Homo sapiens: one gene and its partners. The gene in region 1 interacts genetically with each later gene. Each region holds a gene or a part of one and is shown in the gene's direction. Other genes may lie near its edges.

What was found.
Region 2: of CASP2 (region 1) and XIAP, changing one suppresses a phenotype caused by changing the other (phenotypic suppression), as found in Homo sapiens cells (one study listed by BioGRID).
Region 3: of CASP2 (region 1) and BCL2L1, changing one suppresses a phenotype caused by changing the other (phenotypic suppression), as found in Homo sapiens cells (one study listed by BioGRID).
Region 4: of CASP2 (region 1) and BCL2, changing one suppresses a phenotype caused by changing the other (phenotypic suppression), as found in Homo sapiens cells (one study listed by BioGRID).

The regions. Positions count from the first base shown.
Region 1 is NC_000007.14:143,284,542-143,292,212, forward strand, and holds the start of CASP2 (caspase-2 isoform 1 preproprotein), read left to right. Parts: upstream 1-3,809; 5' UTR 3,810-3,914; coding exon 3,915-3,988; intron 3,989-5,046; exon of another isoform or gene 5,047-5,115; intron 5,116-6,079; exon of another isoform or gene 6,080-6,363; intron 6,364-6,998; coding exon 6,999-7,149; intron 7,150-7,671. Other genes in the region: TMEM139 (transmembrane protein 139 precursor), read left to right, coding at 1,417-1,661, 1,883-2,288. UniProt on the Homo sapiens protein: Is a regulator of the cascade of caspases responsible for apoptosis execution. Might function by either activating some proteins required for cell death or inactivating proteins necessary for cell survival.
Region 2 is NC_000023.11:123,897,686-123,905,547, forward strand, and holds part of XIAP (E3 ubiquitin-protein ligase XIAP), read left to right. Parts: intron 1-2,807; coding exon 2,808-3,008; intron 3,009-7,862.
Region 3 is NC_000020.11:31,663,673-31,671,445, reverse strand, and holds the end of BCL2L1 (bcl-2-like protein 1), read left to right. Parts: intron 1-255; exon of another isoform or gene 256-341; intron 342-4,298; exon of another isoform or gene 4,299-4,455; intron 4,456-5,359; coding exon 5,360-5,497; 3' UTR 5,498-6,988; downstream 6,989-7,773. UniProt on the Homo sapiens protein: Potent inhibitor of cell death. Inhibits activation of caspases. Appears to regulate cell death by blocking the voltage-dependent anion channel (VDAC) by binding to it and preventing the release of the caspase activator, CYC1, from the mitochondrial membrane.
Region 4 is NC_000018.10:63,308,908-63,316,769, reverse strand, and holds part of BCL2 (apoptosis regulator Bcl-2), read left to right. Parts: intron 1-7,862. UniProt on the Homo sapiens protein: Suppresses apoptosis in a variety of cell systems including factor-dependent lymphohematopoietic and neural cells. Regulates cell death by controlling the mitochondrial membrane permeability. Appears to function in a feedback loop system with caspases.

The DNA.
Region 1 (7,671 bases):
CTGTGTGCAGTGCACTGTGTGATGATCTACAGAGATTAAATAAGCCGAGGTCTCCGCTTCCAGTCACTTGGGAGAGACGCACAAGGTAAATTACCCAAATAGAAGGCAAACTGCCCAGGGCTGTAATTAACATACAATATGCGCCGAGAGGGAAAGGTTAATGCTAACTCCGGTCCTAAGTACAAAGATCATTGGGAGTCAGGGGTGCACTCTCATTAGGGTACAGCATGGGTGGGTGGAGAGAGTAAAAACCAGAACAAATCAAGGTTCAGCAGTTGGAAGTCAGCCTTAGGGAGAAAAGGGGCGGAGACTGACTGGGCCAGAACAGGGATTGGGACAGAAAAAGAGGGTGGGGCCAGTGGGCTCCACCTACCCGCTCCGGCCCTTCCCACCACCCCCCACCCCATCTACTTTCTACAGTCTGTGGAGACAGGTGAGCGACGAACTTCTGAGACAGGTGTGGGTGCGAGGGTCGGGAGGGTCATGGGATTGGGACCGAGGTGTGAGGAGGGAATCTGCAATTCCTTGCTACACAGAGCGCTGGCAACTTCTGACAGGCTGTTTCTGGGGTATGGGCTGCCTCGGGTTGTTGCTGTTACAAGGAAAGAAAAGAGTTCCCCTGCCCACCGCCTCCCAGCCACTGGGCTACCTCCTGGCAGGAAATTTGCAAACTGAGTTTAACAAGTTAGGATCAGCAGAGGGTAGAGGAGGGCCCTGGCAGATGTGGGGTCTAGAAGAGGACAGGAGTTATCAGGGCCTCCGGCCATTGTGCTGGGCCTTTGCCTGTACAATTGTTTCTCAAGCAGTTGTGTCCCTGTGGCTTTGGTGCGCCTGTGTGCACTTTCTCCCTCCACCTGGAGCATGGGCTAACACCGGAGGAAAGGAAAAGACAGAGTCAGACAGGGTAAGTGGGGCTCCCTCCCCTCTTCTCTCTAACGGGGCTGGATTGAGGGCCTCTGGCTGGGGAGGTGGGGGTGGAGATCCAGTAGGAGCAATAACAGAGGAAGGGCAGGGCCTGCCCCATCACCTGAATTCCAGAGATGCCAGTGTGCACTGAAGCCCCAGGCAGGGCGTGCCCAGGACCGGATCCTGGATGGTGGTAAGGGACAAAGCTGGAAGGGAGACTACAGGGAAGGAGAAAGGAAAGAAGGCAGAGCCATGACACAGTCAACTTACAGAATGGCTGGGAGTCAAAGCTCCTGGGCTGGTTTCCTGGCTATTCCACACACTCCAAGACATAGAGAGAATTTCGGAACTGGAGGGGACTCTACAGATGATTTATTTGAGATTGAAGAACCTAGAAACCAAACAAAGAAATATCATATGGTTACTTTGGTATCTGACACAGCCATGACACCAATTGCTAGTGTAGACACAATAGCTGTGTGTCTTTTTGCAGGAGCCTGGGGAGGGGCCATGGTGCCAATGCACTTACTGGGGAGACTGGAGAAGCCGCTTCTCCTCCTGTGCTGCGCCTCCTTCCTACTGGGGCTGGCTTTGCTGGGCATAAAGACGGACATCACCCCCGTTGCTTATTTCTTTCTCACATTGGGTGGCTTCTTCTTGTTTGCCTATCTCCTGGTCCGGTTTCTGGAATGGGGGCTTCGGTCCCAGCTCCAATCAATGCAGACTGAGAGCCCAGGGCCCTCAGGCAATGCACGGTGAGTTAAGGGTGGGCATCGTAAGAGGAATACACCTTGGGCCCATCCTCCCTCTCTCCCTGTAGTCTCTGAGGCAGAGAGTCTCTGGTTTCCTGTCATTGGCATCAGCGGGAGGAGGGGTCAGAGGCCAACAGAGGATCTTTTGCCCACAGCAGACAAAAAAAAGGGAAAAAGGGCTTCTTTCATGGAAGCCACCAATGGCCTTATTTCTCTTCCCTCAGGGACAATGAAGCCTTTGAAGTGCCAGTCTATGAAGAGGCCGTGGTGGGACTAGAATCCCAGTGCCGCCCCCAAGAGTTGGACCAACCACCCCCCTACAGCACTGTTGTGATACCCCCAGCACCTGAGGAGGAACAACCTAGCCATCCAGAGGGGTCCAGGAGAGCCAAACTGGAACAGAGGCGAATGGCCTCAGAGGGGTCCATGGCCCAGGAAGGAAGCCCTGGAAGAGCTCCAATCAACCTTCGGCTTCGGGGACCACGGGCTGTGTCCACTGCTCCTGATCTGCAGAGCTTGGCGGCAGTCCCCACATTAGAGCCTCTGACTCCACCCCCTGCCTATGATGTCTGCTTTGGTCACCCTGATGATGATAGTGTTTTTTATGAGGACAACTGGGCACCCCCTTAAATGACTCTCCCAAGATTTCTCTTCTCTCCACACCAGACCTCGTTCATTTGACTAACATTTTCCAGCGCCTACTATGTGTCAGAAACAAGTGTTTCTGCCTGGACATCATAAATGGGGACTTGGACCCTGAGGAGAGTCAGGCCACGGTAAGCCCTTCCCAGCTGAGATATGGGTGGCATAATTTGAGTCTTCTGGCAACATTTGGTGACCTACCCCATATCCAATATTTCCAGCGTTAGATTGAGGATGAGGTAGGGAGGTGATCCAGAGAAGGCGGAGAAGGAAGAAGTAACCTCTGAGTGGCGGCTATTGCTTCTGTTCCAGGTGCTGTTCGAGCTGTTAGAACCCTTAGGCTTGACAGCTTTGTGAGTTATTATTGAAAAATGAGGATTCCAAGAGTCAGAGGAGTTTGATAATGTGCACGAGGGCACACTGCTAGTAAATAACATTAAAATAACTGGAATGAACTCCTGATCCCAAAGCCTATTGTGTTTTCAACACAAGGTAATAGGAAGCCAAGCAACTTGCATGTCTCCCAATCCCTGTCTAGGGACAGCTGCTGGTGCAGGATGGAAGACTTCCTATAAACAGAATGGGCGACCAATTGTGTCTACAGAGGGGGTGGGCTGAGCATGGGCACGCATGTCCCCAGCCTCCTGGACGAGCAAAGTCAGTCAAAGCGCTGGTGATCCCTGCTCCGCGTGCGTAGCAGTGTCTGTGCCTCTCCTGCCCAGGGGCTAGAGAGCAGTCTCCAGTGCAGGGTCCCCATCCTATCTGAAAACAGTGGAGTCAGTGACCCCAGGTGGAGGGACTTCCAGTTTTAACAATGGGTTGGTATGAAGGCCAGAAGGAGTGAAACATGTGAACTTTCTGGCGAGGAGACTCCCTCTTGAATCATCCATATGTAGCCCCGGGGTCACTTGCGAAGAGTCTCTAACAGCTTCTGCCTCACTCCTAAGCTCTGACCGCTAGGCTTTCACCCCAGCCGCCGGTCCTGATTCCTGAGATCCCAATATTGAGCACCAGGTTTCCTGGAATTGTGTGCTGCGGCTGTGATGTAGGTTTCGGTCGCTGGAAGCTGCTAAACCATAGCTGACGCCCCCTCCTAAGCCAGCCTTCCTTCCCCGCGCGGGCATCTGTCCAGGGCCTTGTCGCGCTCTCAGTCTCCTTCGCAGCCTGGCCCCAACCGTTCAACTTCAATAAAGCAAAACTCCAGCCACGCCCGTCTCCGTGAAGTTATCGCCATAGGCCGGCCAGGGGGCGCGAGAGGCACCGGGGTGATTTCCGCGGGAATCGATAACCAATCGGATTCCCAGGCCGAACGGAGCACACCCGCCCGCCCTCGCTCTTTCCCCGCCCTTTGCCCCGCCCCGCTCCTTCCCCTCCTTTTGTCTGTCCGCCGAGCACCCCACTTCACCCCATTGGACCGCGCGGCCGCCGCTAGAGCTCTGCGCCTGCGCACGCACCGGGCCGGGGACTGGGTGGCCTGGTGTGTGGGCGCGGCAGGGCGCAGGCGCAGGCGCAGTGTGCGTCCGCGTCTGAGGGGAGGGATGTGGGGGAAGCGACGGCCCCCGGTTTGTTTGGGCTGTGGGCGGTGCGCAGCGGAGAGCCCGGGAAAAGCGGGAAATGGCGGCGCCGAGCGCGGGGTCTTGGTCCACCTTCCAGCACAAGGAGCTGATGGCCGCTGACAGGGGACGCAGGTAAGTAGGGAACGGTCTTAGGGCTCCTTAGGGGAGCCCAGGGAAGGGGAGCGTGGCCCCCAGGCGTGCGGCCCTGCAGCCCCCTCCCCTCGGAGCCCCGGAAAGCAGCCGTGTCCGCGCTTCCTGCCAAGGGTGGGACGCCCGCCCGAGCCGCTCCGAGCCTGACTCCGCGCAAGGGCCCGCGGGCGGACCTCTTGGCCTTGTCTCTCGTGGGAAAAGACTGCCCCAGCCTCCCTTTGTTCAACCCACGAGGGTTCTAAAGGGGAGGTCTTTGCAGTCCTGCCCGCTCTTGGGTTCTCTTGAAGATTCTTCATCCTTTCCTCTGGCTCCCTTATGAGGGAAACTATAAAAAGACCATACTCTGTCTCCTTAAAAATCGACGAGACCTTCTGCAGACCTCGGTGCTCTGCCTGATGTGCATTTGATTTGTATCGATTGTATCATGATCTGCATGGCTTTGCATAGAATGACCAGATTTTCAAAGAAGTCAATACAGGGTTTGGAAATTGAGTACTTTTGGCAGAACAAGGGGGTTCCTGTGGCTCCGAGTGTCCATGCCTCTGCCCCGGTCATTCCATTTCATGGCAGTCATCACCCAGGAGAACATTGTAATGCCTCCTGCTCGAGACTGAAGATTAAGGTCTTCGCAAAGGGAACCTGCAGAAGGACACAGAATTAAGACGTAGGAACTCCGTGGTGCCCTTCGCCCCTCCTCCCCTTCCAGTTGTGTCCTGAAATTCTAAATGATTGGAAACTTTTATAATGTTCACGTTTAAGACTCTCATACTACAGAGTAGAGGAAGGAGCGGGTGTGCAGAGGGGGTGATGCTTCAGATTAAAACTAAAGAGTTGATTGAAAATTCAAGTCTGGAACTCGAGAGAGTTAAGAACTATAAGTCAGTAAGTTGCAAGTATGGGTGAGATTGTCTAGGGAAAGGCTCTTTGAAGGGGCGTCCCTAATGGAATATCAATATTAAGGGCAGGCCAAAGGCCCTCTAAAGAAAACAGGAACTGGGTAGGCAGAGAGAAGACTCCCAAAGAATGCTGTCATGGAAACCAGAGGAAGAGAACGATTTAAGGAGCGAATACTACTGGTAAACTAATGGAAGAAATCTGCTGCACCACTGGTTAGTATCCCAGCTGCAGTGTTATATGTGATCGTTATTACTGCTTTGACGTATTCGAAAGTGATTCATTCTTAAATAGGTTTTTTTATTTGTATAGCTCTTTTTCTTGTAGCCAGTTTTTCCTGAAAGTCTTGGGTAATGGAAATATTACAGTAAAAAGAAGAAAAAATGGAGTTTCAGACTCATTTTTCCAAACCTCAGATTCATTGGCTGCTTCCAACCCACTTCATCTGTTTTAGGATCCCACCTGCTATCTTAGTTCTCCCAGTTCTTCCAGGACCCAGCTCTTCCCTCTTCTAACTATAAATCTCTCACCCAATAGCATCTGCAAGCCAAGTGCATCCATTCCATAGATGTGTGGTATTTCACTGACTCTAAGATACACATTTTTTCCCTCCCTTTTTTTTTTTTTTTTTTTTTTTGGACGGAGTCTTTGCTGTGTCACCCAGGCTGGAGTGCAGTGGAATGATCTCAGCTCACTGCAACCTCCATCTCCAAGGTTCAAGCGATTCTCCTGTCTCAGCCTCCCGAGTAGCTAGGACTACAGGCATGCAGCACCACACTCGGCTAATTTTTTGTATTTTTAGTAGAGACAGGGTTTCACCATGTTGGCCAGGCTGGTCTTGAACTCCTGACCTCAGGTGATCTGCCCACCTTAGCCTCCCAAAGTGCAGGGATTACAGGCATGAGCCACCGTGCCCGGCCTCCCCTCATGTTTTAACACCTTAGAAATCAGAATGCATTTTAGAGTAGGTTTTTAAGTTATAAATGGAAGTTATTGTATTTTCACTGCTATCAGGTGCCACCCTTCCTGCTGTTACATATGTGGAAAATGTGACGGGGCAGGCTAGAGAACTCTGGATTTATGTAAACTAGGCATGTAGATGACATATTGGCAATAGGATTATTTTAGTTTATAAGCAGAAGCTGATCTCTTTGCAAGCCTGTAGCAAAATTAGCTGGAGGTGACAGCACATGCCTGTAGTCCCAACTACTTGGGAGGCTGAGGCAGGTGGATCGCTTGAGTCCAGGAGTTCTGGGCTATAGTGTGCTATGCCAGTCACGTGTCCACATTAAGTTCAGCATCAGTGTGGTGATGTCCTGGGAGTCAGGGTCCACCAGGTTGCCTAAGGAAGGGTGAACCCGCCCAGGTCAAAAATGGAGCAAGTCAAAACTCCTGTGCTGCTCTGTAATGGGATCATACCTGTGAATAGCCACTGCACTCCAGCCTGGGTGGCACAGTGAGACTCTTTTAAAGTAAATAGATAAATACCTATCCACTGTGACTTTCTGTCATACTTTCTGCTTATCCACATCTTAACAGGATTCGCCATTTTGTCACTGGAACTTAAAAGTTTTAAAAAACATGTAATTATATGTTTATATCACTAGTGAAAGAGAGTTAGTGTCTGCCTCATTTATTTTCTGTTAAAGCCATTGGCTTGAGTTTTTACCATAGTGTTTTAACCCTCATCTAAGATCATTATAAACTTACATCACTTTCACCAGCTTAGATAATGTGAGATGTTTTCTGAAATAATTCTCTTTATTAAAATTGGTCTATCAGAGAAGTATTCCTTCTCATAAATATGTGTACTTGGGGGTATTGTTTTGCTTAAGACAGATATTTCCCTCCTCTAGTCAGACCATTCATCTCAGATGATCTCAGCTGAACATAAACCATAAGGAATTAGACATTATTTTCTTATGATCAATGTGTTCCTGCTTAGTACATCTTTGCTTTAACCAGATTTAAGAAATATGCATAATCTTGGTTATTGTAAGTCTTATTCTTTTTGTTCTTCCTATTCATGCCTCTTCCACTCCACTCTTCTGTGTCAAATTGTGACTTGACAGCCTTTCCTTCTACCGTTTATCTGTAGGATATTGGGAGTGTGTGGCATGCATCCTCATCATCAGGAAACTCTAAAAAAGAACCGAGTGGTGCTAGCCAAACAGCTGTTGTTGAGCGAATTGTTAGAACATCTTCTGGAGAAGGACATCATCACCTTGGAAATGAGGGAGCTCATCCAGGTATCTGGAGGCAAAAGAGAGAAGATAAATTGATCATGGGGTGGGAATAGAGCATGACAAAATATGGAAAGGGTGTCGTATCTTTCTTCCTTTTTTTTTTTTTTTTTTTTGAGACAGAGTCTCTGTCTCCCAGGCTGGAGTACAATGGCGCGATCTTGGCTCACTGCAGCCTCTGCCTCCCAGGTTCAAGTGATTCTCCTGCCTCAGCCTCCCAAGTAGCTGGGACTACAGGCAGGTGCCACCATGCCTGGCTAATTTTTTGGATTTTTAGTAGAGACAGGGTTTCACTGTGTTAGCCAGGAGGGTGTCGATCTCCTGACCTCATGATCCACCTGCCTCGGCCTCCCAAAGTGCTGGGATTACAGGTGTGAGCCACCACACCCAGCTGGATGTTGTACCTTTCTAAAGAAATGGAAATGCCCTTCTACCGTAGAGCATTTGAGAGAAATGATATATAACTCAAGAATAACAGAAAGGACTTCACCCATACATACACTTTTCCTGTAAAAAGAATTCTTGGAT
Region 2 (7,862 bases), on another chromosome or scaffold:
CCCAGTAGCTGGGACTACAGGCACATGCCACTGCGCCCGGCTAATTTTTGTATTTTTAGTAGAGACAGGGTTTCGCCATGTTGGCCAGGCTGGTCTTGAACTCCTGACCTCAGGTGATCCACCTCAGCCTCCCAAAGTGGTGGGATTACAGGCGTGAGCCACTGTGCCCAGCTGGAAAGACCATTTTTCAGAAGGGTCGATGAGGGAATGGAAGGGAGCCACCAACATCTAATTAGGTGGGCACAAGTAATGGAGCAACAAAACAAACTGAAAATAAAAACAAGTCAAAGATAGGAGAAGCAGGAAAGAGCAATGTCTAGTTGCCCTCTGGACATTTCCACCTAGAATGCATCTCTAAAAACCACTCAGACTGAATCTAATCCTGCACTTTTTTCTCCTGTATTGGTTAATAGTACCACAGTTCACAAGGTTGCCCAGTAATTTATGTTGTTCCTAAGCTCTTTGCTCTCTGTAATCCTTTTACATTTAATTAATCATCAAATTTGATGGATTCCACCTTTTTAATGTTGCTTCAGACTTTCCCACTTATTCTGCTCTAGTTCAGGCCCTTCCTTGTTTTTCAACTGGACAATTGTAGTAGTCTCCTAACTGGTCTTTTGTCTGTATTATAACCTGCCAACAGAGTTTTTCTTTTTGTTTGTTTGTTTTTGTTTGTTTTGTTTTTTTGTTTTTCTGAGACGGAGTCTCGCTCCGTCACCGAGGCTGGAGTGCAGTGGCGCGATCTCGGCTCACCGCAACCTCCACCTCCGGGGGTCACGCCATTCTCCTGCCTCAGCCTCCTGAGTAGCCGGGACTACAGGCGCCCACCACTATGCCCGGGTAATTTTTTTTTTTATTTTTTGGTATTTTTTGCAGAGACGGGGTTTTGAACTCCTAGGCTCAAGCGATCTGCCCGTCTTAGCCTCCCGAAATGCTGGGACTACAGACGTGGGCCACCATGCCCAGCCTTATCTTTTATTTTTATTTTTTAATATAGATAGGGTCACACTTTGTTGACCAGGGTGGTTTCAAACTCCAGGCCTCAAGGAATCCCCCTTGGCCTCCCCAAAGTGCTGGGATTACAGGTGTGAGCCACTGCACCCAGCCTCCTCTCTTTCAAAAAACATTTATTGAGCTATAATATACATACAGTAGCCGGGCGCAGTGGCTCACGCCTGTAATCCCAGCACTTTGGGAAGTTGAGGCAGGTGGATCACGAGGTCAGGAGTTCGAGAGCAGCCTGGCCAATATAGTGAAACCCCATCTCTACTAAATATACAAAAAAATTAGCCAGGCGTGGTGGTGCATGCCTGTAATCCCAGCTACTCGAGAGGCTGAGGCAAGAGAATTGCTTGAACCTGGGAGGTGGAGGTTGCAGTGAGCCGAGACGCGCCATTACACTCCGGCCTGGGTGACAGAGCGAGACTACGTCTCAAAAAAAAAAAAAAAAAAAAAAAAAATATATATATATATATATATATGATTTTATATATATATGATTTTATATATATATGATTGTGTATATATATATGATTTTGTATATATATATGATTTTGTATATATATATGATTTTGTATATATATGATTTTGTATATATATATGATTTTGTATATATATACACACGCACACATACACACATAAAGTGCTTAAAGTACCCTAATCGTAAGTTTTCTACTTGATGAATTTTAACATATATATGTTAAAATATATATTAAATATGTGTTAAATATATATTAAAATGTATATGTTAAAATATATATATTTATCTGTGTGACTATCCCCCAGATTAAGATATAGAACATTCCCACAACCCTAGAAAGTTCTTTCATGCTCCTTCCCCATCAGTACCCACCCCCAAGTTATATTCTGGCTTCTATTACCATAGATTAATTTTGTTTATTACCATAGATTAGTTTTGAAGTTCTTATAAATGGACTCATGCAGTAGGTACTCTTTTGTGTCATAATGATGAATTATGATTATGTTTTGCTCATTATATCTATGAGATCCATCCATATTGTCTGTGGCAATAGTTTTTTTTTTTTTTCTTGCTGTGTAGCGTATGAATATACCACAATTTATGTATCTGTTCACCTGATGATGGACATTTGAGTTGTTTCCAGTTTGGGGCTATTATAAATAACACTACTATGAATACTCTTGTGCATATCTTTGGCAGAGATATACACTCATTTTTAATACCCAAGAGTGGAATTGATGAGTCAGAGGGTATAAGTGTCCTCTCCTAGCACTTCCCTACACATGCTGTGTTCCTACTTTAAGTATCATAAAAACAAGTTTCCATTGACTTTCTTGCTTTATTCAGTCCTACCCGCTCTGCTACAGAAACGAAGTTTGAGAGCTAGGAAATTGACACATTCAAGGTTATAGACTGGGACTTCCCTGATTTCCCATCATTTTCCCCAAATAATTGCTAGTGACTCAGTAACAACATCCACTCTTTAAGTAACTTAGGTTAATTGTTAATGAGTACAGCTAGATTCAAAACAGTTCAGATTTTTGAAGCACTTAACCTTTTTCTTGCCTATTTTACCTTGCATCGTTTCAAACACTACAAAATACATACTCATTGCATTTACAATTAATTGTAAGATTCTGAAAGTGATTTTTCAGTGCCTGAATACTTCAAAAAATCTTCCCAAAGCAGCTTTGCTTTGCTGGTTTGTTTTTATTCTTTCGCTTGCTCCTTAATTTTTTCATTTTAACTATATTTTGCTATTGAGTTGTGATAATGAAAATAATTGTTTAAATTCTATGTTCTTTTTCCTCACCAATTTTTATTTCAGATGATACCATCTTCCAAAATCCTATGGTACAAGAAGCTATACGAATGGGGTTCAGTTTCAAGGACATTAAGAAAATAATGGAGGAAAAAATTCAGATATCTGGGAGCAACTATAAATCACTTGAGGTTCTGGTTGCAGATCTAGTGAATGCTCAGAAAGACAGTATGCAAGATGAGTCAAGTCAGACTTCATTACAGAAAGGTATGCATTGCTGTTTTTAAAAAGCAAGAAAGGGCCAGATGTGGTGGCTCATACCTGTAATCCCAGCACTTTGGGAGGCTGGGACAGGTGGATATGGACATTTTTTAAACGTAACCTTAATGCTGTGTGTTAGTCTGCTCAAGCTGCTATAATAAAATTCCATAGACTAGGTGTCTTAAACAACAGACTTATTTCTGACAGTTTTGGAGGCTCCAAAATCAAGGTGCTGGCTGATTTGGTTATTGATGAGGGCCCTCTTCCTACCTTGCAGATGGCTGCCTTCTCACTGTGTCCTCACATGGCATGGGTTGGGATTGGATGGGACAAGATGGAGCAAGTACTCTGGTCTCTTTTCCTCTACTTTTAGGAACACTAATCCCATCATGGGGGGGTCTCATCTTCATGACCTCATCTAAACCTAATTACTTCCCAAAGGCCTCATTTCCAAATATCATTACATTAATCATGGAAAAAAGATTAAAAATATGAGTTCTACCAGCCTGGACAACATAATGAAACTGTCTCTACAAAAAATACAAAAATTAGCCGGGCATGGTGGTGTGTGCCTGTAGTCCCAGCTCCTTGGGAGGCTGAGCGGGGAAGATCACCTGAGCCAGGGAGGTCAAGGCTGCAGTGAGCCATGATCATGCCACTACACTTCGGCCTGGGCAACTGAGCAAGATCTTGTCTCAAAATATATGTATCTCTCCTTTAAGGATGATGGACACTGTAGTGCTTGCCAACAACATCGAAGGTTAAAGAAGAAGTTTCAAACTGAGTACACTTTTGGGTACTTTACCTGTAATAGTTCTCTAAGCTCTTGACCATCCTCCCTCCAAAAAGATGAGAATTCTCCTACTGCTAAAAAAACTTAAACGTTTACTTATTTTTGACGCATTTAAGATCCTTTTGATCTTTAAGATATTTCAAGTGCTTTTGAAACACTATTCAGATAATCGTATAAGTTATGAAACAGTATGAACATTAATGATATTTAAAATTATATTCATTGATGTAAGAATCAATGGAAAGCTTCCAATTTTTTCCTTATAGATGCATTTATTTAAAACTTACACAAGCTCCACTTATCTTGGTGGTGGTAAAATAAACCCTTTAATTGTCATCTTTCTTTCTTTTTTTAATTTTTTATTTGTTTTAAGACGGAGTCTCACTCTGTCGCCCAGGCTGGAGTGCAATGGCACGATCTTGGCTCACTGCAACCTCCGCCTCCCCAGCTCAAGCGATTCTCCTGCCTCACCCTCCCGAGTAGCTGGAATTACAGGCATGTGCCACCACGCCCGGCTAATTTTTTGTATTTTCAGTAGAGACAGGGTTTCGCCAAGTTGGCCGGGCTGGAATTTTTCTACTATAACAGAAACACAAGCAATTGTGTCATTTTTTTCCTGCATCTTAAACACGCGCTTAATTGTTTGGCCATAAATTGTTAGTTTTCAAACCTTAATGTATCTGCAGCAGAAGGGTTTAGCAGGTTGTAATAGGAAGAGATCAAGAGACTGTGCATTAGGGAGAGTGTCTTTTCTCTATCTAACAGGAGTCAATGGGCGCTCATATTATCACTGAGACTACAAACTAGGATGGTGTGGGAAGGAGAGCCTAAGGGTTGGAATTCATTTGAACTCTCCTCAGTCTCACTAAATTGAGAGGCAAGTAATTGATACAGGCTCTCTACTCATGCTGGGACTGCTGCCTATTTGTCTTCCCAAAAGCTGATGAGGAAAGACTGGCACTAAGAATCTTTTAATTTTATATAAAATAAGGATGGGGCTAACTGAAGTGAAGCAGGTGAGGGTTATTAGAGAAAATATAACATTGTCACTTACTGAGAAATCCTAGATTTAGTGCTAAACTTTTTTGCCAATGGCTGTGTAACAGAGAATGCCCTAGTAAAAGGTCTTGTAAAAATAGTACCGAATCAGTATCTTTTTTTCTTTCTTTGAAAAAATTATGTAGTGTAAGATAAAGCCCTTTATTTAGTATATGTACTAAAGTACTTATTTTAATCTTTATGTGTATATATATTACTGTATATAATATAAAAATCAAATAACCCATATTCATTTCTTATCTGTCTTTCCATATGAATCTGCTCTAATAGTAAAATGAATAACATCAGTTTATTCTAGAAGAGGTTTTAAATAATTACAAATATTAGCAAATAACATCAAAAGTTATCTAGCCTTTATTGCTCATGTGCCAGTAACCTTCTGACCTAGAAGAGGGCTTTGTGGGGAGGAGAAGGGGAAAGGCGCTGTAGAGAAGTATGTAGAATCCAGTAGTTACCTTTAAGCCAAGAGGGAAGTAATTGCCAGTGGTAAACTACTGGTCTGAGGGGAAAAGATCTATGCCCAGAATATCACCATCTCAAGTTAGTGGCTTTATACAAGGATGAAATAATATAGAAAAAAATGAGATGATATGGTATCACAAACAATCAGAACCAAAGGAACCTTAAAGATTATTTTATAATTTTTTTTTTTTTTTTTTTTTTTTGGAGACGGAGTTTCACTTTTGTTGCCCAGGCTGGAATGCAATGGTGCAATCTTGGCTCACTGCAACCTCCACCTCCCGGGTTCAAGCAATTCTCCTGCCTCAGCCTCCTGAGTAGCTGGGATTATAGGCATGTGCCACCACACCCTGTTAATTTTGTATTTTTAGTAGAGACGGGGTTTCTCCATGTTGGTCAGGCCGGTCTCCAACTTCCAACCTCAGGTGATCTGCCCGCCTCGGCCTCATAAAGTGCTGGGATTACAGGCATGAACCACTGCACCCAGCCCATTTTATAACTTTTATGACCTTAATTGGGAACCTGAAGTACAGATGGGCTGTTGCCTAGGATCACGCCGATAGTTGGGAATAGAATTCAGATTTCCTGACTTCTGGTCCAGTGTTTTGGGGTTTGTTTCAGTTTTTTTTTTTGTTTTGTTTTTTGTTTTTTTTAGATTTTAAAAAATTGTGATAAAATACACATACAGTTTACCATCTTAACCATTTTTAGTGTATGGTTCCGTAGTGTTAAGTACATTTACATTGTTGCACAGTCAACCTCCAGAACTCTTCATCTTGCAAAACCGAAACTCTACATCCATTAAACAGCCAGGCGTGGTGGCACACGCCTGTAGTTCCAGCTGCTTGGGAGGCTGAGGCAGGAGGATTGCTTGAGACCAGGAGCTCAAGGCTGCAATGAGCTGTGATTGCACCACTGCTCTCCAGCCTGGGATACAGAGCAAGACCCTATCTTTAAAAAATAATAATAATAATAAAAACATGTTCATTAAACAACTCCCCATTCCCTCTCTTCCCAACCCCTGGCAACTACCATTTTACTTTTTGTCTCTATAAATTTGACTACTCTAGGTGTCAGTATTGTTGTTGCTTTGTTTGTTTGTTTGTTTCTTCCTTTTTGTGGAGAACGGGGTCTCACTATATTGCTCAGGCAGGTCTCGAACTCCTGGGCTCAAGCTATCCTCCCGCCTCTGCCTCCCTGAGAGCTGGGATTATAGGCGTGAGCCACCGCGCCCAGCCTGTTTGTTTGTTTTTAACTCGTTGTAGCATTACATCTAAAAGTAATGTGGAAATTACTTGTTCTCCTTTTGATTTTTTTGGCATGAAATACACACTTCATTCTGACTTTTTTTGGTGTTGATGCTTTCTTATAATATAAATCAGCTTATAGTGCCGTTTCTTTACTTGTATTTTTTCCTCTGCCTTGAGTACGTTTTCTCTATCTGTATACCTAGTCCCATTCCCCACTCTACCCCCAACTCCCTGAATCTACTTTGTGAACTCATGTTTCAAGGTTCAGCTCAGAAGTCACTTCTTTCAAGTTTTCTCCCGCACCCACAGCAGAGTTAGGAGCTCCTTCTTATCTACTCCTGGTGCTGGTAGAGTTTTGTTTTGTTTTATTTTGTTTTGTTTTGTTTTTCTTGAGACAGGGTCTCGCTCTGTCGCCCAGGCTGGAGTGCAGTGGCACACAATCTCAGCTCACTGCAACCTCTATCTCTCAGGTTCAAGCGATTCTGCTGCCTCAGCCTCCCGAGTAGCTGGGATTACAGGCATGCGCCACCACACCCAGCTAATTTTTTTTGTGTGTATTTTTAGTAGAGATGGGGTTTCACCATGTTGGCCAGGCTAGTCTTGAACTCCTGACCTCAAATGATCTGCCCGCCTCAGCCTCCCAAAGTGCTGGGATTACAGGCGTGAGCCACCAGGCCTGGCTGAGCATTTTGCTTTTTACACTATTTTGGGACTGGTTTCTGCCCTGCCCATTAGACCAAGCTTCTTAAGGGTAAGTGCTTTATCTTCTTATCTCTGATGCATTCCATGTTTGAGCCTATAGTTTTTATTATGCCCAAGAGGGTACTTTTTAAGAAGAAAGAGATTAAACAATCCTTTCCTCTACCCCCTAGCCAGAGAAACCTTTCTGAGACATAGATGTGATCATATCTGTCTCTAGTTTAAAACCCTTCACTGCCTCCCAGGACCCTTGGGATCAAGTCCAAACTCCTTTACGTGGCTCGCCTAATCTTTCATGATCAGGCACCCTTTTGTAGCCTCATCTCATGCTATTTTCTCAAATTCTGTGCCCAAGCTTTGCCTGTGCACTTGTAGGCCACGTTCTGTCTCTCTCCTTGGAGCTTGTTTATGCTGTTTCCTTTGCCTAAAACACTTTTCTCCCATTGCCCTTATCCCCCAAGGCCTCCTTCTCCTAGTAAACTCCTAATTCATTCTTTTGTACCCAGTTTTAGGTATAATTTCCTCCAGGAGGCCTTCGTTTATGCATGCATGCACACACACGCACACACACCCTTCCTGTGCTCTTCATAACACATTGTA
Region 3 (7,773 bases), on another chromosome or scaffold:
AAGGACAGTGTTGGCAAAGGCACCAGGGCCTGAAGCACTCAGGAGTATGTAGTGTGGGGCCATTCCAAGTGGGTGGCCAGGACTGTTGAAGCCTCTTGAAGTATTGGAAGAAGGACCTTGAAAGTGATACTAGCCTGGGCATCTCCTAGGGGCCAAGTCAGGAGACCCAGTTTTCTAGTGTAGGCTCTACTACAAACCAGCAGTGGAAACGTAGAATGGGCAGGTGGGTTGGCCTTGCTGACTTCATGGGCCTACCTGGCTAGGAATCCATGACTCTCCTGTGGAGGTCATTAGCCATTGCCTGTCGCCAGTGGCCCTACAAACCCCCACATGGAAGTCAGCTACCCCACTTTCCTCTTAACTCAAGCAGAGGATGCAGACAGGCCCTTGGGCCTGGGTCTCCTAGAAACCTTTGTGACATCAGAGACCTCCCTACAACCCACTCTTAAACCTCATCCCCTGCCTACCATGCCAGCCTGGTTAAAACCAGTGGGAGCCACCCAAGGTGCAGTAGGGGCTTATCTCTGCTTTTCCAGACCAGGGCTGCTCTGCAATCCTGTTTATTTATCCAGAGCAGCCGCCTGCTGAGAAAATGGCTCTGTTTATTTCCAAGTGTGTCGTGTGAACCATGGGCTAAATATACCCACGCCACCGCCTCTCCAGCACCCGCCCTGGAACAGCACGCCCCATTTTGCTCATGCTGTCTCCGCAAAAGCAATCCTTAGAATCCACACCCCTTGGAAATACTACTCCCCTTCCCCAGGAAAAGAAGCTGAAATGGAAATGAAGGTTGTCATGACCAGGAACACATGAGTGGAAGCTGGGGCAGGTGAAATGAGAATGTTTCTATGGCACTGAAATGAGAATGTTCCCTCCACCCAGGAATGACTGTTTCTGGACAGTGAATGCTTTGTGCCCTTGTGGGGACAGCGCCTGTTTACTCCAACCCAGCCCCAGAGCTGAAAATTTCCTGTGGCTGCCAGCCGTCTACTTCAGGAAAGTTCCCATCAAGGGAGCCAGGCCTCTCCCATTTTGGCTGCAACCCCAGTGTCCCTGGTTTCTTGAGAGACATTTGGCCTCTTGGGATAACCAGGGCCTTCTCCTATGCTCTTCATAGTGTGGAACTCTCCCCCATCACAGATAAGCCTATTTTGTGACTCCACCTGGGTGTACTTGGGAGCAACAAAATCAAACCTCCTGTAAGAATATTTTTGTCTGCCAAGACCCGCAGAGGCTAGCTAGGATGGAGAGGGAGACAGGGAAGCATAGCCACGGCCCTAGTGCCCTCCTTTCCCCAGATCCTCCACCTCAACCCTGCTCCCACATTCCTTCTCCTGGAAATCCATCCTTTCAGCACTACTGACAGGACAGGTCCCTCCAGCCTCCAACTTCAGGGAAGTGTCCTGACATAGCAGCCCTCCCTTTGAAGCTAGGCAGTCTTGCAGTTTGATCCCGACTCTGCTATCTGTTTGCTGAGTGTTCCCTGCTTTAAATATCAGGCATCTTATTTGTGAAATGTGGCTCAAATCTACATCTCAGGATTCTGATGAAGATGAAATGGGATACCAATGCCTGACATGTAGTAGACATGCAATACATTTGTTAACTCATGTATTCTCATGTATTTACAGAGCAAGACACTGTTCTGAGCACTGGGTGTATAGGAACGAGACAGGACCTCTGCCCTCATCAAGACACATCTAGTATAGGCCGAGGGCAGTGGCTCACGCCTATAATCCCAGCACTTTGGGGCTGAAGAGGGCAGATCACTTGAGGTCAGGAGTTTGAGACCAGCCTGGTTAACATGGTGAAACCCCATCTCTACTAAAAATACAAAAATTAGCTAGGCGTGGTGGCAGGCGCTACTCGGGGGGCTGAGGCAGGAGAATGGCTTGAACCCGGGAGGCGGAGGTTGCAGTGAGCCAAGATTGCACCACTGCACTCCAGCCTAGGTGACAGAGCAAGTCTTCGTCTAAAAAAAAAAAAAGACACATCTAGTATGGAAGACACATCACAACAAAAACAAAGTACAGAATCTAGTTATGAGAAGTACAGCTTAATGGGGGAAAAATGTGGTGAGGTGGTGAGGCCGGGCATGGTGGCTCACGCCTGTAATCTCAGCACTTGGGAGGCTGAGGCAGAAGGATCCCTTGAGCCCAGGAGTTTGAGACCAGCCTAGGCAACAAAGTGAGACCCTGTCTCTACAAAAAATTTAGAAATATTAGCCAGGCATGGTGGTGTGTGCCTGTAGTGTGGCAGCTACTCAGGAGGCTGGGGCAGGAGGATCATCTGAGCCCAGGAGGTCAAGGCTGCAGTGAGCCATGATTGCGCCACTACAGTCTAACCTGAGTAACAGAGTGAGACACTGTCACAAAAATTTAAAAATTAAAAAATAAAGCACTGAGAAGAAAAGCTGGCATGGTGGTCATTCTGTGTAGTGTAGTTCCTGTAATCAGGAGGCTGAGGCAGGAAGATTGCTTGAGTCCAGGAGTTCAAAGTCAGTCTGGGCACATCTTTTAAAAACAAGAAAAAAAAAATGGTGGCTGGGCATGGTGGCTCATGCCTGTAATCCCAGCACTTTGGGAGGCCGAGGTGAGCAGATCACCTGAGGTCAGGAGTTTGAAACCAGCCTGACCCAACGTGGAGAAACCCCGTCTCTACTAAAAATACAAAATTAGCCAGGTGTGGTGGCACGCGCCTGTAATCCCAGCTACTTGGGAGGCTGAGGCAGGAGAATCGCTTGAACCTGGGAGGCGGAGGTTGCAGTGAGCTGAGATCGCGCCATTGTACTCCAGCCTGGGCAACAAGGGTAAAACTCTGTCTCCAAAAAAAAAAAAAAAAAGGCCAGATATGGTGGCTCGTGCCTGTAATCCCAGCACTTTGGGAGGCCGTGGGCGGATCACTTGAGGTCAGGAGTTTGAGACCAGCCTGGCCAATATGGCAAAACCTTATCTCTACTAAAAATATAAAAATTAGCTGGGCATGGTGGCACATGTCTGTAATCCCAGCTACTCAGGAGAATCGCTTGTACCCAGGAAGCAAAGGTTGCTGTGAGCCCAGTTTGTGCCACTGCACTCCAGCCTGGGGGACAGAATAAAACTGTGTCTCAAAAAAAAAAAAAACTGAGAAGAAAAATCAAGGAAGGTAAGGGGACAGGCAGAGAGAGACGGGGGTGGTGTACTGTTTTAGACAAGGCAGTCAGGGAAGGCCTCCCCTAGGAGGTGACATTTGAGGGGAGTCATGGTTGTGAAATGAGGGAGTGAGGCAGGCGACGACCTGGGGTCAGGTGCTCCAGGCAAGCAGGAACAGCAGACTCCTGCGGCAGGAGACGTTGGAGGAACAGCAAGGAGGCCAGTGGGACTGGAGTGAAGTTCAGGGGACAGGGGTGGGGAGGAGGCCAGAAAGTGTTGGAGCCAGATCCCACTAGACCTTGCTGGCCAGAGTAAGGAGTGGGGACTTTATTTCAGGTGTGATGGAAGCCCTGGGAAGGTTGAGAACTTGGAGTGACTGAATGGAGTGTGCTTCTGCAAGGGCTGAGATTCATGGGTCACTGCTCTCTACTGCCTTAATGTTGAGGATTCCTTCAGTCAAATTAGCAGCTCAGTGCACATGGCATTTTGCTAGGTACCAGGGATACAAAAATAAATGATGCTGCCCTTCTAAGTGCAGGAGAATGCTGCTGGAGGGCTTCCAGTGTTCTTAGAAAGCTCTGTGTGGAGCATGGACTGAGGGGGTTGTCAAGACTGGAAGTGGGCCACGGCAGGGGTCACAAGTGAGCAAATTGATAGGTGAGACCTGAGGCCAACTGGAGATGGCATGCCTGTCTTGAGGGAGCAGCCACTCGGCCATTTGGGACTGGTTGGAAATGTAGGCCCAGTGTGGCAGAGGTCTTGGTAGAGAGGCAAGAACCAGCCAGTAACTCATTCATTTTACACACACACACACACACACACACACACACGGTACTATGGTACTTCCTTTTTTTTTTTTGAACGGAGTCTCTGTCACCCAGACTGGAGTGCTGTGGTGCGATTTCTGCTCACTGCAACCTCCGTCTCCCGGGTTCAAACAATTCTCGTGCCTCAGCCTCCTGAGTAACTGGGATTACAGGTGCGTGCCACCACACCCGGCTAATTTTTGTATTTTTAGTAGAGACAGGGTTTCACCATGTTGGCCAGGCTGGTCTCGAACTCCTGACCTCAGGCAATCCACCCACCTCAGCCTCCCAAAGTGCTGGGATTATAGGCATGAGCCACCGCACCCAGCCTGGAACTTACTTCTTTCTTACATATTTCTAGGTGCCAGATGCCAGTTTTAGATTCTGGCTCCACCACTGACACAGCTGGGTGACCTTGATCCAGTCCCTGGACCCTCAGAGGCACAGCTTCTTGGCCTGTAAATGGGGAGAGACAGCCTGCATTGCAGAATTGTTGGGAGGATTAAAGGACAAATTGGGTACTACGCTTACTCATAAAAGTTATGTTCTAAGCGTCCTTCTCCCTGCCCCACAGGCTGCTGCACCCTGGGCTGGGTAATTTAGCCCACAGCTCCTCCTTCCCCCTGTCATGTGCTTCCCTTCTGACTTAGATTCAGGGCAGAGGGCTGTTGATCACAACCTCCTGGGCCCAGAGTCACACCCCCTGCAGTGGAGGATGTCCGGGACAAGGCCTCACAGACCCCGTGATGGAGGCCTGTCAGTCCTGCATCATTGTTACCCTCTCTCCTCTGCCCTGCTCTTCTTGTCACCAACCTGCCCACCAGAGGCTCCCTCCAGAGGGAGGAGCCTCTGGCTGAAGTCCCAGGACCCATTCTACCCCTGAATTGGCCTCAAATGACCCTGGGGATTTAGCCCTGGGCTTCCTTATCCCTCCCTCTGGTGCAGCAGTAGAAAATCTGAGGCCTAGTGGCTCCACACTCCACACTACCCTCAGACTCAACTCTAGGCTCCTTGCGGCTTCCAGGCCACGTATGGTCTGGCTCTTGCTCACCCCTGCACCATCATCTCCCCCATGCCCTCCTCTCCTGCACTCTGCTCCAGCCACCTGGCTTCCATCAGTTCCCTGACCCTGCCCATCTCGTTCCCACCTTGGATTCTGGAGTAAGTGCTACTTCTTGACTTACCTCAGACAGGGCACTTTCCTCCTCTCTACCTGTTTCTCAGCAGTAACATGGTTTGATTATCACCAATGGAGGGTCAAGAAAGAGGACCACCCTTAGCCCTTTACCTGGCCCAGAGTGGGCACAGATGGCTACAGTTTTTCACATCACCAAGGCCATAGCATGCAGATGGCCCCTTTCCCCACCCACCTACATCACTCTCTGAGGACTAAAACTGCACCTTCCTTCTCTCTCCCTGCAGGATACTTTTGTGGAACTCTATGGGAACAATGCAGCAGCCGAGAGCCGAAAGGGCCAGGAACGCTTCAACCGCTGGTTCCTGACGGGCATGACTGTGGCCGGCGTGGTTCTGCTGGGCTCACTCTTCAGTCGGAAATGACCAGACACTGACCATCCACTCTACCCTCCCACCCCCTTCTCTGCTCCACCACATCCTCCGTCCAGCCGCCATTGCCACCAGGAGAACCACTACATGCAGCCCATGCCCACCTGCCCATCACAGGGTTGGGCCCAGATCTGGTCCCTTGCAGCTAGTTTTCTAGAATTTATCACACTTCTGTGAGACCCCCACACCTCAGTTCCCTTGGCCTCAGAATTCACAAAATTTCCACAAAATCTGTCCAAAGGAGGCTGGCAGGTATGGAAGGGTTTGTGGCTGGGGGCAGGAGGGCCCTACCTGATTGGTGCAACCCTTACCCCTTAGCCTCCCTGAAAATGTTTTTCTGCCAGGGAGCTTGAAAGTTTTCAGAACCTCTTCCCCAGAAAGGAGACTAGATTGCCTTTGTTTTGATGTTTGTGGCCTCAGAATTGATCATTTTCCCCCCACTCTCCCCACACTAACCTGGGTTCCCTTTCCTTCCATCCCTACCCCCTAAGAGCCATTTAGGGGCCACTTTTGACTAGGGATTCAGGCTGCTTGGGATAAAGATGCAAGGACCAGGACTCCCTCCTCACCTCTGGACTGGCTAGAGTCCTCACTCCCAGTCCAAATGTCCTCCAGAAGCCTCTGGCTAGAGGCCAGCCCCACCCAGGAGGGAGGGGGCTATAGCTACAGGAAGCACCCCATGCCAAAGCTAGGGTGGCCCTTGCAGTTCAGCACCACCCTAGTCCCTTCCCCTCCCTGGCTCCCATGACCATACTGAGGGACCAACTGGGCCCAAGACAGATGCCCCAGAGCTGTTTATGGCCTCAGCTGCCTCACTTCCTACAAGAGCAGCCTGTGGCATCTTTGCCTTGGGCTGCTCCTCATGGTGGGTTCAGGGGACTCAGCCCTGAGGTGAAAGGGAGCTATCAGGAACAGCTATGGGAGCCCCAGGGTCTTCCCTACCTCAGGCAGGAAGGGCAGGAAGGAGAGCCTGCTGCATGGGGTGGGGTAGGGCTGACTAGAAGGGCCAGTCCTGCCTGGCCAGGCAGATCTGTGCCCCATGCCTGTCCAGCCTGGGCAGCCAGGCTGCCAAGGCCAGAGTGGCCTGGCCAGGAGCTCTTCAGGCCTCCCTCTCTCTTCTGCTCCACCCTTGGCCTGTCTCATCCCCAGGGGTCCCAGCCACCCCGGGCTCTCTGCTGTACATATTTGAGACTAGTTTTTATTCCTTGTGAAGATGATATACTATTTTTGTTAAGCGTGTCTGTATTTATGTGTGAGGAGCTGCTGGCTTGCAGTGCGCGTGCACGTGGAGAGCTGGTGCCCGGAGATTGGACGGCCTGATGCTCCCTCCCCTGCCCTGGTCCAGGGAAGCTGGCCGAGGGTCCTGGCTCCTGAGGGGCATCTGCCCCTCCCCCAACCCCCACCCCACACTTGTTCCAGCTCTTTGAAATAGTCTGTGTGAAGGTGAAAGTGCAGTTCAGTAATAAACTGTGTTTACTCAGTGAACAAAGAGCCTGGGCTCTTGTGTGCTCCGGGATGGGGAAAGGAGGGGCCGCTGGAGAGCTGGGTACTGGTCCTGGCTCTGCTGCCCTCAGGGGAGGGCCTTGGACAAGTCCTTCCTTCCTTCTGGGCCTGAATTTATCCACCTGTACGGTGACAGGGTTTTACTGGGTACATGCTGTGTGCTGGGCACTGGGGCTGCATGTGAACAGGACAGACACAGTCTCTGCCCTCAGGAGCTGACATTCTAGTGGGAGACACAGCCACTTGGCAAGTGTTTACTGAGCTCTGCTCTACACAGACATAGTCCTGGGCACTGGGGACTTCTTCAAACAAAACCTTTGCCTTTACAAGCATTCATTCTAGTGGAAGAGACAGACATAAGCACGGCTCTAGCTGCTGTAGGGTGTGGGGGAAAGGTGTGATGCCTTTCCTCACCCATCAGAAGGTTCTGTGACTGACATTCCTATAACAAAAGAAAAACAAAGTGGCAGTTCACACCCTGTAATCTCAATACTTTGCGGGTGGGGGATGGGTTGCTTAAGGTCAGGAGTTCAAGATCAGCCTGGGCAACAAAGTGAGACCCTGTCTCTACAAAAAAATTTTTAAATTAGCCAACCCAGCAAGGCCAGTCCAGATTCTTCTTGGCCTCTGTGTAGCATTCCTTCCTCTCCTGTACAGGAGACAAGACATAGGTCAGAGTATTTATTTGTTTTTTAAGAGGGTCTTGCCCCGTCACCCAGGCTGGAATGCAGTAGTGTGATAGATAACTGCAGCTTCAAATTCCTGGG
Region 4 (7,862 bases), on another chromosome or scaffold:
CCACATGTTTTTATTACATTTTACAAAGTGTGCTCATACTAGGAGGCCAAATAGAGAAAAGGCCAAGAAAAGTAGATGATTGATGTGAACATCTGATCTTATTTGACCAAAGTTGACAAAATATTGATGCCACTGTTTGGTGTTTAAAAGTAAGATTAACTAAAATGCCCCAATTTAAATTTCTAAAATTTAAATCCTCTTCTTGAATTGTTTGTTTGTTGAGATCTCACATTATCAGATCTTTAGTAATTCTGGAAGAATTTGCTAAAGGGTGAAAAGAATATTTTTGTTAAATATTTGGTTAAGTAGGTGGTTTGATTTTTAATCACTATAACTAAAGGGGTTGGGACTTCCAGATTCCCAAAGGATCCTTTTAAACCAAAGTAAAACTGATTTAATAGTTTTACTATTTCACATTTTTGTGAAAAATTCACACTTACAAATTTTCTTTCTACTTGAAATAAATCCAAGGTGGTAACTGGTATCTGTCTATCAAATAAGTTAATAAAAATGTGGGAAACAGAGACACATGTTTATGACAGAAATTAAGATACAACCTTGATATTTGTTGCTGAATTTCAGTGTGTTACCCTCTCATGTAACTGAAGTTTCTTTTTAAGTAAAGGCTCACTTTTTTCTTTTTGTGAAACAGAGTTTTCATAGTAGACCTATCTTTGTGGTCAACAGGTATCTGAGGTTGATAAATGTAGAGGCTACATTTTATGATGCCAAACCACAATGACATACCATAGAACATGATAAAAATTTTTTGACAAAACTGCTTCTAGTAAAAATAAATCATGTAGAAGCACAGATGGTTGATGGTAAAATATGTAATAGCTTTCAGAACAATGCATAGATGGTGACTATATAGGAAAACAAAGGAATTTAGAGAAAAAATATATATATATACCAGGAAATGCACTCATAGGACACTTTGGAATAAAAGTGGTAGTGTTTGAGAATGATGAATGATTTGCCTATCATTTCAAATGTGCATTATTAATCTAAAAGTCATTTTAGGCATTTGGCATACAGACAGATTTTCTTCACATTTACACCAATTGGGGTTACATCTCTAATAATATGTTGTATTTTATAGTGTAAGGTAGTCTTAATGGTAAAGCTTCAGAAGAGAGCTAGCATATTTTCTTGGCATGTGACAATAATCTGCACTGTCCCCAGGGCTCCGTGGATTAGCCCATCTCCTGAATACTACACTGAATACTCCAGGCTTTAGACTGCAAGTCATTTCTTTTTCTTTGCTGCTGCTCGTAGAAAATTGGAACCTTGTGAGGCTGAGGAAATCTGTTTGACTTTTGTGTTCCATAACATGGATAAATCAGGTCCTTGGAATGATCAGCCTCTGATAGATTGTCCCAGAAGACTACAAATTAAATAAAGACTAAAGAAGTAATTGGCTGTAGAGTGGAGTGTGGATTTATTCCTAGGTCTGAATAAGGCATTGTGTGGCATCCAGAGAGAGGCAGGACAGAGGAAGCAGTGAGAGAGAAGCAATTCTAGAAAATGTGGATACCTTGCTGCTCAGTGTGGCTTATAGACAGTAGCACATGCATCCCCCGGAGCTTTGTAGAGATGCTAAAGCTCAGCTCCCACCCCAGAGCTACTGAGTCAGAATATGTGGTTTGTGTGCACGTTAAAGTTAGCGATGCTGGCTACCATCCTTGGTTCCTGGTGGCATCTTTTAGGAAGAGTTGCTACCTGGGATGGATTCTGCATTGTCCCCTTCCAGTGGCCTTAAAGATCTATAGTGTTACTTGGAATACCGAGTATTTCCCAGGTGTCCACTATTGTGATCTGACTTTAGGAAGACATAAATTGGATGAAGGAGAGATAGCAAGCAGGTAGATCAACTATAAGCCCAGTCTTCTCATGAATATTTTTCGTAGTAGTTATATAGTTTATATTGGCATCACTGGTCCCATTAAAAAGTAAGATAGCTTTTCTTCAATTAAAGGCAAGAGAATTAGCTCTTTTAATAGCTCTGTTAGTTATTATTTTATCCCCTCATAACACAGTTTAAATTCTGTAAATGACTTTAGTGACCTTGCAGCTTCTTTAAGACAAAGGGACTCTTGCAGGCAAGGGATTGAGTTTTGGGCAGGTGATGGAGAGTGACCCTCTAAACTGGGAACTGTGACGACATTCAGCTTCATGTCTTAGGAGAGAGTGAGATAGGAGCCACTAGAAGAATGAGATGATTCAGACAAGAGATTGTAGGAGATTGGCTTTATTCTGTTGACAAGATGGTAATCCGACTTATTTTTTGGTTTTTTGGTGTTGGTGGTTTAGGAAGACAGGAACTTCTCCACACCCGGTAGAGTTCAGCTGCCTTTTCATTAGTCAGCAAGCAGTTTTTCCTTTCTCAAGGCAGTCCACATCCAGCAAAACATTTGATTAACTGGAAAGCAATACCATTCTCATGCCAGTGTACAAATTACATGAAAGAGCATCATTTTTCTAGTGTCTGAGGATTGGCTGCTTATGGCCAATTTTGGCAGCAAGACGATAGGATTAAAAATAGCTTGAAGATGATCTAGTCTTAAATAATATATTTCATGATGAACTTTCCTTGGGAAAGTGCATCTTTCTGCCTACAAGAATCACATGACCCCTTTCAATAATTTATGTAGTAGAGAAAAACACACTATTTCTCATAGAGTTTTCAGTCATGTGCTGTGGTGTGATTGTTTCTGGACATTCATAAAATTTTATAGTTAACTGAATTCTCTTTTCTGTTTTGTTGCTATTTAACGTCCATTGAAAACATGGCTTTCTTTTGCGCATTCTGTTACTTTCAGCTGTACTTTCTAATAAGAATGGATTGCCCTTTTTAGCAATCTTTGATTGAACTGGTACATTTCAGATTACTTAAATGTCATCAGGCCACACAGCATACCAGGTAACAGAAAGCCATAAATTAAAAATAAAAAAAAGGCAAGCAAAATTCTTGTTGTTTTTTCTTATCTCTGTTCCCAGTCCTATTGCGCTATTTGGAGGGATGATACGCCCACTCATGAGCGAGTGTGTGGGTGCTGCATGTTAACAGTGGTTCTTCCCACCCAACATACCTCCGCACCCTTTTCTAAGGTCACTCATTGTGTCTTAGCAGTAGTTTAGCAAAGCAGTATCTCAGCAGAAGTGCATTTGTGCTAGAAAACAACACTGTCTTTGTAGTGTACAAGTAGAACGTTTTCTTTTTCCCCCAGAGATATATTGTATTTGAGATTCAAAGGTTCTGTTCAACCTTTTTAAGGTAATCTAATATCACCTTATTCAGGTATAACAGTAACTTGTCAATCTGGTCATCCTTTCTGTCAACCACATGTAGGAGACCACTCAGTGAATTTACTCCACTGTGAATTTTCTCTTTCATCCCTCTTGGTTTGGCTTAATCAACCTTAATGTTTGATGTCTAAGCAGGATTAATGATGAAAATCATCCAAGGACTGACAGTTATTCCACAGATGTGATTGCCAGTCTTACATGAGTCCTGCCTTGGGTTAGGTTGGAGGCACGGCAAGGAGAGCTTTGCTTCTGCCCTGGATAAACTCACAGGCTAGTGTTGCAGGCATCTTAATAAACTCGTAGTTATCATACAGCCTGATAAGCATGATCCTAGACTCAGAGACTTAGAGGAAAAAAGCAAATAACTATAAGTTATTTTGCATGTACTTCAGCCTTGGTCTAAGAACGTTATTTCTGACCATATGGCTGTTCATGTGTGCATTAGGCCTAATTTAAACAGGGCCAAAATGTAGATACTTTAAAAAATACTGTGTAACGTAGACATATGCTTAAGAGAACTGAAAGGCAGGGGGAGTTCCCTTGTTAAATATTAACCCACTAAGCACTATTTATGCATACTAAGAAGACTTAATAAACACCAGTCTACAATTTCTAAAGCATTTCATTAATTCTTTTTAAGTAAAAGACAATCAAGGCTCCGATTAGACTGACTGGAACAGGGTAATTTGAAGAACTATCTTTCTTAAATAACTCTTGTATGCCAAAAAATACAAGTAGGTTTTGAACCAGAGCGGGGGCTCTTCCTTTGAGCAGGGGAAAAAAAAGCTTCTGTTTTGTTTTGGTTTGAGGTTATATTACTGTTCTATTTATCAAGACACTTCTACGATGCTAGTTACAGAAATTCACAGTCCATTGTAACACTGGCATTTGCCTTCGGACTTTTTTGGGCTTGTGGTCTGTTCGTTTAAATGGAGACTGTAAAACTTTCAAAATGCCAACAAAGCTGTTTTCACTTAAAAACATATTTTTATAGATTGTCACTTGTTGTTCTTATATATGCCCAATTCTGTATATGCTATAGCACTATTTCTCTGCCCTCCATTTGCCAGACAAAAGATACACCCATCTGTCCTTCAGTGTGAATAAGGATTGAATGATTATTCCTCTCTCTTCCAAGCCATGGGACTTTCTCATAGGTGCCACCACCCCTGTGACCATCCCCTACCTGCCTTATCATTCCACCGGTGAGGGACCTCTCAGGTGTAGCTCCTTGTTAACTTCCAATTAGTGATGGGTAGGATTTACCTGAAGAAAACCGTAATGCGCTTAGATACTAGCAAAAGGGAGCAGAAGTGGGGAGTCTAATCAAAGTGAGAGGATAACCCTCACCCCAAACTTGCTGCAGGCAGCTGGGCAGGTCAAAATTCTGTGACCAGACACTATCCTTTTCCTCTAGTGATTATAAACTTTAACCTGTGCAGAGAAAAGATAGTATCTGCTGGCAAAATTTGTACTTACTTTGATTCCTCTAGTGCAAGATTATAGTGGGGTTATACCTGAGACTTCAATAAATGTTTGACTAACTAAACTAAAATAGCTTAGGGTAAGGACTACTTCCCCAAACGCCCTTTTAAACATGTGAGAAAGGGAATCTCCCTGACATACTGGTATGGCCATTTGTAGCAATATACTGAGAGTGACTTGGGTGATTTTCTGGGGCGATCAACCACATTCCATGAGCAGGTTAACTGTGGAAGACACCTGCCCTTGAGCATCGCGTTTGGGCCACATGCGTCAATGGGGAAATTTGTGTTTCCATTCTGCTTCTTGTTTTGCCTTCACAACTTCAGGGATAGAAGCGTATTCCATTTTTAGTTAATAATCAGCTCTCTGGGGCTTCCATGTAATGAGTCAGAAACTGATGACTGACTCCACTCTGCTCATTATCATGTCTCCCAAAAACAACCCGAGAACCCACTGTGTCAAGTGAAGCTTTAATTTTTCAGGGGAGGTTTTCTCCATTGAGACCAATACATCTTTTCTTGTGACAGATCCAGTTACCATATTTCCTTATTTTTAACTGTCGAAAAGACAGTTAAGCTGCAACAGAGTATGGTGAGTTTACCAATTTTAATACTTGAAGCACCAAACAAAGGATCAGTGTTGCAGGCTGTCTCTTCTTGACTTTTTCCAGCTCTCCTTAGCAGATAACCAGGATGATATTTTTTCTGCTTTACAACATGATGAATGCTATATCTCTATATTAACTCTGAAATTGAATTGCAGCCAAATATTCCTCTCAGCTGCATTAGAATTTTCTAAAAGAACATGAGACACATAAACTTAGTCTTCTTAGTTCAATGCTATATCTCAGATATATTGATATCTGATTTACAATTAAAATAGGAATAAAATTAAGTACAAATTATATCATCAGCTTTAAATATTGATTTATCTTCTTGAAAAAAAAAAAGCGAGTCCATAAAGGATGGCAGCATTGGCATTTCTGGATGTAAAATTTCAGGGCTATCTCCTAGCCATATCCTTTATGGATTCCTGCCAGCATCTTTAAAAACACACACACTGAAGACACACAGAGAGGTTTTGAGGTATTTTATAACAAAATTATAAGAACAGGGAGACAAAGCCACTTACTAAACATTAAAGTGATAGTATAAGAAGAAAATGATTTGAAGAAGTCCTAATTGAGGGAAATGAGCAATTGTCCACAAAACTTAACCCTGGGTTCCCAGGAACCGGGGTAGTGATGGTCATGGAGAGGGGTTTTAGAATCTGGTTATTTAGGAAAACATGCACACTAACTTGTTTCATTGAAAAAAACATTTATTGAGGCCCTACACCATGCAAAGCTCTATGCTAGGTGTTTTAGTTAAGCGAAAAAATGTCTAAGATAACTTTTGCCTTCAAGGAACTTACCAATCAGTAGGAGACCAAGACAAGGATACAAATCACTGTAATCCTGGACAATGTGTAGTAGACAGAGAGGCCCAACCCAGCTACAGTGGTATCTGAAGAGTTTCATGCCGGAGATAATGTTGAGACAAGTTTTAGAGAACAGGCAGGCGATACGGGGAGAGGGTCTTTCAGGTAGTGGAAACTGGAGGCGTCAAAGCAGGCATGAATGCGGGAGGTGTGTTTGGGGAATTGTGGAGAGTCTGATTTGACTGGGGCATGGAGAACTCTCCTGAGATAAATCCATAGTTTTGAGAACTTACCACTGCATACTAAGTTGTGAAACTTGTATAGACAGCCCTCCCTATCTTTGGGTTCCACATCCATGGATTCAACCAACTTTGGATCAAAAATATATGGGGTAGGGCAGGCACAGTGGCTTAGGCCTGTAATCCCAGCACTGTGGGAGCTCAAGGTGGGTGGATCACTTGAAGTCAGGAGTTCAAGTCCAGCCTGGCCAACATGGTGAAACCCTTTCTCTACTAAAAATAGAAAAATTAGCCAGGTGTGGTGGTGGGCGCCTGTAATCCCAGCTACTCGGGAGGCTGAGGCAGGAGAATTGCTTGAACCCAGGAGGCGGAGGTTGCAGTGAGCCGAGATCGTGTCACTGCACTCCAGCCTAGGGGACAGAGCGAGACTCTGTCTCAAAAAATAAATAAATAAACAAACAAATAAATAAAATAAAGTATATAGGAGGATGTGCATATGCAAGTACTACTCATTTAATATCAGGGACTTGAGCATCTTCAGATTTTGGTATCCACTGGGGGTTCCTAGAGCCAATCCCCTGAGGTTACTGAAGGATGGCTGCGTTTAACTGTACCAGGGATGTTGAAAGGATGTTGCAAAGGTTCTCAGACAAGGCAGGATGTGTGCGTGGGAGGAAGATTGACAGTGACTGAGCCTGGACGGGGGAGACCAGGTATGAGGTCTGAAGCACCTGGAACAGAAAGGACAGGACAGATGTGGGCACACTGCACGTGTAGAATCAAAGGACTGACAGCAGGTCGAATGTGAGGAATGAGGGAGGGAAAGAATCAGGACTCAAGTGCCATCCTGGCTGCCTCAAAAAATGATACTGTCTTCCAGAGGGAAAGGAAAGATAACAACAGTTACTGCTTTGTGGCGTACATGTGATGAATTTCATTTTGGACATTCCAGTAGGATATCCAAGTGGAAATGCCCAGTAAGCCTTAGACATAAGGATCTGGATCTCAAGAGAAAAATTGAGGTTGAACCATAATATGTCTTTCCCCTCGAATCATGTAGGTTTCTCTTTTGCCTTCTTTCATTGCCCTAAGTGGTCCTAAATGCTACTGCTGATGCTGTCTTAGTTTGCGACTGTTGTTTGCACCCCACCTTTTCCCAAAGGTAATCTGTAGACTTGCATGGATTGGGTTAAGGTGGTTAACCTGCAGCTTTGCTGTTCAAAGCTTGGCTTCCCACTACCAGTTTGCCAACTTAATGAGTACTTCAACTTGAGTCAAATTAGTATTGTTCCAAATATCCTAATAGTATCCTCTATGTGTGACTCTAGGTCTTACAAAATCAAGGTGTCCTTTCTCATTGAGACTTCCTTATTAATAAAATATTTCTTCTATTAAATTCAACCTGGCACC